Linked DNA regions of Homo sapiens: region 2 is linked to region 1. The links come from fine-mapping of genetic effects on gene expression. A gene starts in region 1. The other region holds a variant in brackets. All regions are shown on one strand. Distances are from middle to middle.

Evidence for each region. PIP is the estimated chance that this variant, and not a neighbour inherited with it, causes the effect. A credible set is the group of variants that fine-mapping cannot tell apart.
Region 2: its variant is the best candidate, but not a certain one, in a credible set for the expression of NOS3 in esophagus mucosa (GTEx, PIP 0.63).

Annotation. Positions count from the first base shown.
Region 1 is chr7:150,988,126-150,993,489 of GRCh38, forward strand. It overlaps NOS3 (nitric oxide synthase 3), which reads left to right and starts at 2,892. Exons shown (of 27, transcript NM_000603.5): 1 at 2,892-3,175. RefSeq lists enhancers at 267-307, 814-973, promoters at 2,244-3,112, 4,054-5,364, 4,621-5,364, cis regulatory regions at 4,114-4,134, 5,141-5,147 and a silencer at 4,851-4,881.
Region 2 is chr7:151,035,990-151,041,353 of GRCh38, forward strand. ABCB8 (ATP binding cassette subfamily B member 8) reads left to right here. Exons shown (of 16, transcript NM_007188.5): 8 at 84-181; 9 at 555-660; 10 at 4,279-4,312; 11 at 4,509-4,645; 12 at 4,839-4,933; 13 at 5,110-5,243. Among named protein-coding and RNA genes, the nearest start is that of ASIC3, 9.9 kb to the right of the region's middle. RefSeq lists enhancers at 3,139-3,923, 3,924-4,707. The variant G/A (reference allele first, on the strand shown) is at 3,306.

The sequences.
Region 1 (5,364 bases):
TAAGGGCACGCATCCTATTCAGGAAGGTTCCTCCCTCACGATCTCAACACCTCCCAAACACCCCGCCTCCTAACACCATCACCTTGGGGGCTAGGATCTCAACTTATGAATTTGTGGGGAAATCAAACGTTCCCCGAAACATTTGTGTGTGTAAGAGAGTATGCATGGATGTATGTGTGTGTGACTGTGCATGCATGCATGTATATATGTGTATGTGTGTGCATGCATGCATGGATATATGTGTAAGAAAGTGTGCATGCATGCATGGATGTATGTGTGTGCGTGTACGTGTGTATGTGAAGATACCTCCTGAGCCTTCGGTTTGACACACCCCATGTGGTCTGTGCAGGAAGCAGGGAGGCGCAGATTTGTCCCAATCTGCTCCTCTGGGGGTGGGCCCAAATGAGCCACCTTGGGACCCCAGATGGCTGGTGTAGACCTACCACCCGATGCCGTTGGCTCCTTTCCTATCCCCTGGGTCTCCCCCTCCCTTCGTGGTGTCTGATCCCACGATTGTGCTGAAATCGCTCCTCCTCGGCTCTCTGCTGCCCTCATGTGGCTGTCTCAAGAAGGGCTGGGGCTACCAGGGGGCGCCCAGGATCAACACAGGAGCCCCTTCAGACCGGCAACCGCGTCCACAGCCCGGAACCCTCAGCATCCCAGAAGCCGCCCCAACGCCCTCACCAAAGGCTCAGCACCAATTCTGCAATCTGGAAGCTGAGCAAATCTCTCCGCCCCCCAGCACTCAGCATGAGTTACATCCTCGGGAGGGGGAGGCCTGGCGGCAGCTGCTCCCCGCCCCTCTCCCGCTGCTCCCGCCTCCCTTCCCTCCTTTCCCCGCTCCCCACCCGTCCTTGCCAGCAGGCAGGAAGGAAGCTGCTCATAGTGCAAGGGTGGGGTACTTCCAGCTCACACTGAACAGCCCCGGGCTGGGCTATAAAGAGTCAGGGACTTCCGCTCAGTCACCCCTGCCCTCACCACCCAGGCCCCCATGCACACACCCCAGGCCCAAGGCCTTCCCTTCCCAGCACAGCCCTCCAAGGTCAAGGCGTCCCCCGCCCAGCCCTGCAGAGCACTCTGGTCTGAGAGGGAAGGCAGGGGCAAGATTTGCCGCCTCTTTGGCATTATGGAGGGGGCAGGGGGCACAGGGCACAGCCCTCCCCAGGGAGGGATCCCTACTCACCCACAGAAGGCTGTCACCTTACCCCTGGGGTCTGGGCCAGCCCTCCCCGAGGCGGAAACACAGCCACTGTCAGGGACAAGGGGGCTCAGTTCCCAACCAGATCATCTCCAAAGCCCATTCAGCTTCAGATCTCATGATTGAAGATGGAAATTCTTTCAGCCGAACACCAAATCTCCAACCTTGAAAACTGTTTTTTCGGAAAGTCCTCTTTAAAACATGGTTACCAATATGAGCAGTCAGCCACTAAGATGCATGGGCATCATTCTTGGCAGGGCTGCAGGCATAGAGCAGGCCAGCACCAGGCAGAGCCCTGGGGACGGCAGGCCTCCTCCGACAGGCGGGGGAATCAACTGTTCTCATCAGAGCACCCTGATGGAAGGCAGGACACTCCGGACAACACTGGCCACGGCCCAAGAAAGGGGAAGCAGGGAATCCCCTGTCCAGAGAGCATTCATCTCTGACTTTTTCTGTCTGTTTAACTTTTTTTTTTCCTCCTTTTCTTAAGACCCTGCCATGGCATCCTCTGCCCCAATTCAAACCCAATCCAGGCCTACTCTGACCCTCAGCTTTCAGCGCTGACTGTACTGAACTGGACCCCATCCTCCCTGTGACCCTCAGCCTTCAGTGCTGGCTGTACTGAACTGTAACCCATCCTCCCTGTGGCCACAGAGTGCTCCTTCTTGCACTCCTCCCCTTCACCTAGACTGACTTCTTTCTGCCCACACAGACCCATCTAGCCTCAGCCAATTCCCTTCTCAGTGGACCCTCTCCATTGCCTCCAGAGCACAGCTTCCAGTCCCCAGGCGGCTGCACACATTTGCAACAAAACAAGCCAATGTATGAAGCAATCCCACTCAGTGCAGGAGCTCAACCCAGCAGAGGATCCCCACAGAGAGGAACTGACCTGTGTCTTCCAGAGCACACAGGTTCAGAGCACACAGGTTCATTTAAGTGAGAACCCACACTTACAGAGCAAGCTGCCCAAAAACCACGACCAGGAGGGCCCAGAGAAAGAGCTGTCCCCGGGGCCTTGGGGACAGGGTGACAGCCACCCAGAGATCATGGAGAAGGGGACGTAAGGAAGACCTCACAGAGGAGTCATCCTGCGACTGTGTTGGTTGGGTCCTTCAGGAAGCAGAGTCCCAGGAGTTGGAAGCATAAGAGGAATACTGCGGGCAATGCCTGAGAAAGATAACAGGGACCGGGAGCAGGAGTGAGTTGGGCAGGGGAAGGATCAGGCCCACAATGCCAGGCTCACACCTGCAGAGGAGGGAAGAAGAAGAAGGGCCTCACATCAGCCCAGCGGGGGATGTTACGCCCACAGACGCCCCGGGGCTCAGTTACTGTCTAAGTGTTAGAAATAAATTTTCGGTGCCACAAAAGAAATAGCACTCAGATATAAATGTTCCCAGCAAGGCAATTTTACTTCTATAGAAGGGTGCATCTCACAGATGGAGCAATGGCAAGAGCACACCTGAACAAGGGAAGGGAAGGGGTTTTTATCCCTAAGGCAGGTAGCCCCTACAGCTGTGTTGTTCCCCTATTGGCTAGGGTTGGACCACACCGTCTGAGCTAATTGTTACTGGCTATTTTAAAGAGAGCAGGGGTAAGAGCCGGATTGGCAGGGTAAGTAGTTTGGCAGGAAGGACGGTCACAGAACAGGTGACTCAGGATGACTCAGGTCAGAGCAGGTGACCAGTGGTGACTCAGTTCGGAGCAGGTGATAGAAGCTAGGAGGGGGTTGTTTACTGAAACTAGGGGCAAGGAGACGAAGAGAACATGAAAGTTAAACTTTAAGATGAAGAACAAAGCTGAACATACTGATGCATTGGATCTTTGGAGAGGATCTCAGAACTCATTGTACTTAATTTACAGGCTAAAACCTTAGAAGAGGAATTTATTATATCCTACACAAGACTCCAGGGAAGCACATGGCCTTGGACTGAAGGCTGGCATCTGGAAGCTGTCAGCCACCAGCACCTTCTGCAGCAGGTACCTGCTCTCTAAGAGGGAGGCCTGGGTGGTGCACCTCCAGAGCTGCCCAGGCTGGGCCTCAAGGAAGAAAAAGATTTTCATTTGTCAGAGGCGGAAGGGAGAGGTGGAGGGAACAGCACAGCAGCGGCCCAGGGGCAGGGAAGCACAGGACCATTAGGGAGACACGAGAAAGCCCATTTGTCTAGAACAGAGGATTCAAGCAGTGCACCAAGGAAAATGAGGGCCAGGCCAATGTGCTGGAGTGGCTTTGTTCTTGGCTGAGGGTTTTGGGTAGTGCCAAAGCGTAAGGTAAGCCCTGCTTTCCAGAAGAATCTAGCAGAGTGTGGAGCCCAGATGGGACTGGAAGGCCTGGGAGGGGTCAGGTGGCCACAGGGACGGGCCACAGCCAGTGGTGCAGGCAAGAAGACAATGGCCATCCATGGTGGCTCACACCTGGAATCCCAGCCCATTGGGAGGTCGAGGCAGGTGGATCACCTGAGGTCAGGAGTTCGAGACCAGCCTGGTCAACATGGTGAAACCCTGTCTCTAATAAAATTATAAAAATTAGCCGGGCGTGGTGGTGGGTACCTGTAATCTCAGCTACTCAGGAGGCTGGGTCAGGAGAATCGCTTGAACCCAGGAGGCGGAGGTTACAGTGAGCTGAGATAGCACCATTGCATTCCAGCCTGGACAACAAAAGCGAGACTCTGTCTCAAAAAAAAAAAAAAATTAGCCAGGCGTGGTGGTGGGTGCCTGTCGTCCTCGGGAGGCTGAGGCATGAGAATCACTCCGGGAGGCAGAGGTTGCAATGAACCAAGATCACACCACTGCACTCCAGCCTGGGTGACAGAGCAAGACTCTGTCTAAAAAAAAAAAAAAGACAGAAGGATGTCAGCATCTGATGCTGCCTGTCACCTTGACCCTGAGGATGCCAGTCACAGCTCCATTAACTGGGACCTAGGAAAATGAGTCATCCTTGGTCATGCACATTTCAAATGGTGGCTTAATATGGAAGCCAGACTTGGGATCTGTTGTCTCCTCCAGCATGGTAGAAGATGCCTGAAAAGTAGGGGCTGGATCCCATCCCCTGCCTCACTGGGAAGGCGAGGTGGTGGGGTGTGGTGGGGCCTCAGGCTTGGGGTCATGGGACAAAGCCCAGGCTGAATGCCGCCCTTCCATCTCCCTCCTCCTGAGACAGGGGCAGCAGGGCACACTAGTGTCCAGGAGCAGCTTATGAGGCCCCTTCACCCTCCATCCTCCAAAACTGGCAGACCCCACCTTCTTGGTGTGACCCCAGAGCTCTGAGCACAGCCCGTTCCTTCCGCCTGCCGGCCCCCCACCCAGGCCCACCCCAACCTTATCCTCCACTGCTTTTCAGAGGAGTCTGGCCAACACAAATCCTCTTGTTTGTTTGTCTGTCTGTCTGCTGCTCCTAGTCTCTGCCTCTCCCAGTCTCTCAGCTTCCGTTTCTTTCTTAAACTTTCTCTCAGTCTCTGAGGTCTCGAAATCACGAGGCTTCGACCCCTGTGGACCAGATGCCCAGCTAGTGGCCTTTCTCCAGCCCCTCAGATGGCACAGAACTACAAACCCCAGCATGCACTCTGGCCTGAAGTGCCTGGAGAGTGCTGGTGTACCCCACCTGCATTCTGGGAACTGTAGTTTCCCTAGTCCCCCATGCTCCCACCAGGGCATCAAGCTCTTCCCTGGCCGGCTGACCCTGCCTCAGCCCTAGTCTCTCTGCTGACCTGCGGCCCCGGGAAGCGTGCGTCACTGAATGACAGGGTGGGGGTGGAGGCACTGGAAGGCAGCTTCCTGCTCTTTTGTGTCCCCCACTTGAGTCATGGGGGTGTGGGGGTTCCAGGAAATTGGGGCTGGGAGGGGAAGGGATACCCTAATGTCAGACTCAAGGACAAAAAGTCACTACATCCTTGCTGGGCCTCTATCCCCAAGAACCCAAAAGGACTCAAGGGTGGGGATCCAGGAGTTCTTGTATGTATGGGGGGAGGTGAAGGAGAGAACCTGCATGACCCTAGAGGTCCCTGTGGTCACTGAGAGTGTGGGCTGCCATCCCCTGCTACAGAAACGGTGCTCACCTTCTGCCCAACCCTCCAGGGAAAGGCACACAGGGGTGAGGCCGAAGGCCCTTCCGTCTGGTGCCACATCACAGAAGGACCTTTATGACCCCCTGGTGGCTCTACCCTGCCACT
Region 2 (5,364 bases), 48 kb after region 1:
ACAAAGCAGAGATGCCCCCCACACCCTGCCAACCCTTCGTGCCAGCCCAGCTGCCTCCTGAATGCACTGGTCTCTCTCACCAGGCGCTATGGGGCAGAGCTGGAAGCCTGCCGCTGCCGGGCAGAGGAGCTGGGCCGCGGCATCGCCTTGTTCCAAGGGCTTTCCAACATCGCCTTCAACTGTGAGTGAGCCATTTGGGGGCTGGAGGGGCGCTTGTGGGCTGGGGAGGAGCTGGGAGCAGCCAAGGCAGGCAAAGGCCCTCCCTTCATCTGCTGGCTGCCTGCATTCGCCTCGGGCCAGCTGCTAACTCTTGCAGGTAAAGGGAGGGTGCCGATGTCCCAACCCAGCTATGGGACTCCATGTGGAACGCTACAGGGCCACCCTCAAGGAGGCCATGGAGGCGTGCCCACCCCAACTTGCTCTTCCGAGGAGGAAGCCAACGCTGGGACCAGTCATGCGCCTCACCTGACTCTCCCAGTCAGCAGTGGCAGAGCAGGCCCAGGGCTGTTTCCTCTGCCCTGGCTTCGTCCTCCCTCACTTCCCCTCTCCTGCAGGCATGGTCTTGGGTACCCTATTTATTGGGGGCTCCCTTGTGGCCGGACAGCAGCTGACAGGGGGAGACCTCATGTCCTTCCTGGTGGCCTCCCAGACAGTGCAAAGGTAAGTGGGGGCCGTTCCCATTGCTACAGAGCCCCCTGCCGCCCTCCAGAGCCCTGCTGGGTTAGGGGACACGGGTGCCAGCCTTCTCTGGGGGCCGACTGCTGTGCAGCTCCAGGCCTGCCCAGCTTCCCCAGGGATGCATAGGGTGGGGAGAGAGAGCCCCTCAGGGCCCATAACAACCCTCCTGGCTGGGGCAGTGGCGCTGCAGCAGGCAGGTGCTTGTCATCTTCAGCCTTCCAAAGGACCCAGAAGTTTCCTTGACAGGCTTTTTAAAAATTTGTTTCAACTGTGGTAAAGTACACAAAACATAAAATACAGCATTTTAACCATTTTGAAGTGTGCAGCTCATGGGCAGTGGGTGCACTCACATTGCTGTGCGGCTGTTGTCACCGTCCGCCTCCAGAACTCTTACCTGGCAGAGCGGAAACTATCCCCATGACATGGGAATCCCCATTTGCCCTCCCCCAGCCCCTGGCACCCACCATTCCACTTTCTGTCCTTATGATTTGACAACTCTAGGGACGTCCTCTAAGTGGAGTCAGACTATGTCCTTTTGTGACTGCGTTTTGTCACTCCACATTGTGTCCTCAGCTTCCTCCGTGTTGCACCCTGTCCGAATTCCCTTCCGCTGCAGGCTGTGACATTCCATGCATGGAAGGACCATCCTTGACAGGCTGTGTGAGCTGCCCTTCCCCATGCCTGCCACTTCCAGGGATGACAAGCTGACCCCTGTCCCCACACACCCCACCCTTATAGCTTATTGCTTTGCGTTGGTCCAAAACCACCCGCTCAGCTGAGCCTCTGGGATGACCAGAGCTGATCACCAGACAGCTCAAGGCGGGCCTCCCCCCTCCTATCTCTTTCCAAGCTAAACACAAGCAGTTCTACATAAATATGTTATGGTAAATAATGAGATAGTAAATATGCTGTAACAGATCATCAAAGGGTGAAGACCCGTCTCCACGAACCGTGCATCACCTCTGCCACCCCATCCCTCCCCCCACGACCCCCCTGCTCTTCCACCGGGGCCCCCACCCCATTCTACTGAGGCATGTGTCCTCGCCCTGCTGCATGGTGCACCCCTGCGTGTGTGTCCGCCGGATCAGAACCCCTCACTGCAGGGTGTACTGTCCCAGGAAGCGGGAGGCGGACGGAGACAGGCTCCCATTTTCAGCCCCAAACCTGACATTCCACAGAGACGTTCCTCCCATTTCCGCAGCTGCATGGACACCCTCGCGTGCCCCGTTTCTGCTCGTGCTCCCTAATCTGAGCACCTTCAGACCCTTTCTGGTCCCGGGCTCAGGCCTCCTTGGCAGCCTCGCCCTCCTCCAGCCCAAGGAGCTGTTCTGTCGTGGCTTTGGAATTCAGATGCTCTCACTGTGATAGAGATGGGGTCTTGGGGGGCTGGGAGCTGTTCTGTCGTGGCTTTGGAGTTCAGATGCTCTCACTGTGATAGAGATGGGGTCTTGGGGGGCTGCCTCCACCACTGCCTGCCCTGCTCAGCGCTGACCCACTTCCCTTGACCAGAGTTTTGGCCTCTCTGAATGGGACGGTCGTTTTAGTCCTGAGGGCCCATAAGAAGCCCAGTGGCGGCTGGGTGCGGTGGCGCACACCTGTAATCCCAGCACTTTGGGAGGCCGAGGTGGGTGGATCGTGAAGTTAAGAGATCGAGACCATCCTGGCCAACATGGTGAAACCCCGTCTCTACTAAAAATACAAAAATTAGCTGGGCATGGTGGTAGTCCCAGCTACTCGGGAGGCTGAGGCAAGAGAATCGCTTGAACCTGGTAGGCAGAGGTTGCAGTGACCTGAGATTGCGCCACTGCACCCCAGCCTGGCAACAGCAAGACTCCGTCTCAAAAAAAAAAAAAGAAGCCCAGTGGCTCCCTTAATAAAATCACCCCTTAGCCCTCTGTGGTGGGCAGTGGTGGGACAGTCTCCCTGTGGGGAGGGTGGCTGCACTGTCCAGCCCCAACCCTCCCGCTTCGGGACCCCCACTTCCCCTTTAGGGCCTGAGACTCTGACTTTACCTCCCACCGTACTGCTTGGCCATCCAGCAGCTTTATGACACACACAAGAACCCCCAGGGGCTTGTCTGTGCTGTTTCGCTGGCTGCTCCCACAGCCACAGGCCCTAGACCCATCCTCTTGGAGGTCCTTCTAGCGCTGCCTATGTGGAGATTCTTCCCCACTCATCTTGGGGGTTTGGATTTGTTGCATAAAGCAGCTGATGTGTTTCCCACAGGGTCCTGCCAGCTAAGCCAAGGGCCCATGCATTGGCACTGGGGTCTAGCAGAGAGAGGGGAGCAGGATGGCCCGGCCTACCTCAGGCAGCCTAACCTATGAGCCCATCCTGAGTACTCCTGATGGAGATGGGGAGGTGCCCAGACAGACAGCAAGTGGGGCCCAGCCGCCTCATCAGAATCAGGGCCAGGCTCCACCTGGGAACAGGCCCGTAGCCTACAGCCCACGGCCCCTGAGAGCAGGGTCATCACACTCCAATGAGTCATGTGCATTTTGAATTTCAGTTGCTGCCCAGCCCCTTTGCCAGGCCCTAATGTCTTCCAGATCTCTGGTGGAGAATGTGCCCCTGCTCATCAACAGATAGCTGGCTGGGCTGGCTCCTTCCTGCCTGGTGCCTCCCCC[G/A]GCTGCCTTTAGCAAGTGCTGACTGCACTGAGTCCACTGGGACCTTTTCCTTTTGGGTTTCGAGGCTCCTCCCACTCACCCCCACCCTAGTGCTGGAAGAAGTGAGTCTGCAGCTGAAGGGTTGCTGGGGAGTCAGTCTTTCCTCTTACTTAGGAGGGGACCAGGCATACACACACTGTCACAGGTCAGCCAGGCCAGTCAGGGACCAGTGACTCACCTTCCTCCTCAGCCTCCTGGCAGCCGGCCAGCCCTACCCCGGCCCTGCCGGGACGAAGGAGGCCACCCACTGTCTAGACAGATAACACTGTGGGTATACTTATCTGCAGGGCAAGCTCATGAGAAAAATTTTTTTCAGGGAATTTTGTTTTGGGGTCTCCTGAGAGTTCCCCTGTGGCCCAGTGTCTTCTGTTTTCTTCTTTCTCCAAAAAGATTTAACATCACTTCTTCCACCTAAATGTCTGCCAAAGTCATTGCTTCCCCAAGAGTCTGCAGCATTAGATCTGCTCTCCCCTTCTAAGCCACGCACCCTTGATCTCTGTTCATGGTGGCGGCCTCCGCATCCTCAGGGCCGAGCAGGGAGTCCGTGGGTCAGCTGGGCTCCCTTCCTCGTGGGCTGATATCACCGCTGCATGTGTGCACAGGCCTCACCCTGCAGACCACAGGCCAGGGCACTGGAGGACACCCACAGAGGCCTGTGCCTTCACTTCCATTTCCTCGTGGAGCACCCCCTCCCAGGGGCTTGGGCTGAGCTGAGGGACAGCTGTCATCCTCATCTGGCCAAGGAGGGAGCCAGGGCTCAGCGATCTGGTGTTGCTACGTCCCAGGGCTCTACGCCCCCATGGTGCAGGAGCAGTCTCTGCATTTGGCCACAGGCCACCTGCTTCCTTGCTCCCCCGCCCCACCGTGGCTTCCTTCCCCTCCTCTGGCTCTTCTTGTTCCCATCTATTCCACCCCTCTCTCCTTTTTCTGACAGGTCCATGGCCAACCTCTCTGTCCTGTTTGGGCAGGTGAGTGGCCGGTAGGGTGGAGGGCCTGGGGTGTGGAGTTTGTGCCGTGTGTGCCGCTGTGGGAGCTGCCTATTGACTGGGTGTGGGCGGGCAGAGGAGCTGGGGAGACCCCAGCCCAGAGCCATGGCCACTCCCTGGAGATGCTGTTGTCACCCCTACTCCTGCCTCCCTGCGGACTTTGGATCCCCTCCCACAGGTGGTCCGGGGGCTGAGTGCAGGTGCCCGGGTCTTTGAGTACATGGCCCTGAACCCCTGCATCCCACTGTCTGGGGGCTGCTGCGTCCCCAAAGAGCAGCTGCGTGGCTCCGTTACATTTCAGAACGTCTGCTTCAGGTCAGCACGGGTGAGCAGGCGTGGGGATGGGTCCCTGGGCCGGGGATGAGGCGAGTGGATTCGGGGGTGGAGGTCTGGACTAATGTCCCCCATAAACAGGCCCTCTCAGAGGGCTACAGGGAGACTTCAGGAGGGACCCGGGCAACAAGGGCTGGGAGCCTGGTCTGACTGGGGGTCTCTCGGCTCCTCCCAGCTACCCCTGCCGCCCCGGCTTCGAGGTGCTGAAAGACTTCACCCTGACGCTGCCCCCTGGCAAGATCGTGGCCCTCGTGGGCCAGTCTGGCGGAGGTAAGGGGAGCCCACCACCTCTTCACCCTCTGACTCTTCTCTAGCAGCCACTCAGAGCAAGGCCGGGAGCAGTGAGCCCCCGGTGGGGTCCCTTCCTCCACTGCCACAAGGGGCCTTCTTTCCTGGGACAATCCCTAGAATCCCTGGCCTCCCTCCCTCTCAACCCAATTCCCCAGGAAAGACCACCGTGGCTTCCCTGCTGGAGCGCTTCTACGACCCCACGGCAGGCGTGGTGATGCTGGATGGGCGGGACCTGCGCACCCTTGACCCCTCCTGGCTCCGGGGCCAGGTTGTCGGCTTCATCAGCCAGGTGCGGGGCCACATGGGCAGCCCTTGGCTCCCACTGCCCGTCCTCCCCTGGGCCCTGCCCCCTTAGTCCTCAGGTGCCTTTTCTTTCTTTCCCACCCTCATCCTTGCTGCTCTCGGGAGAC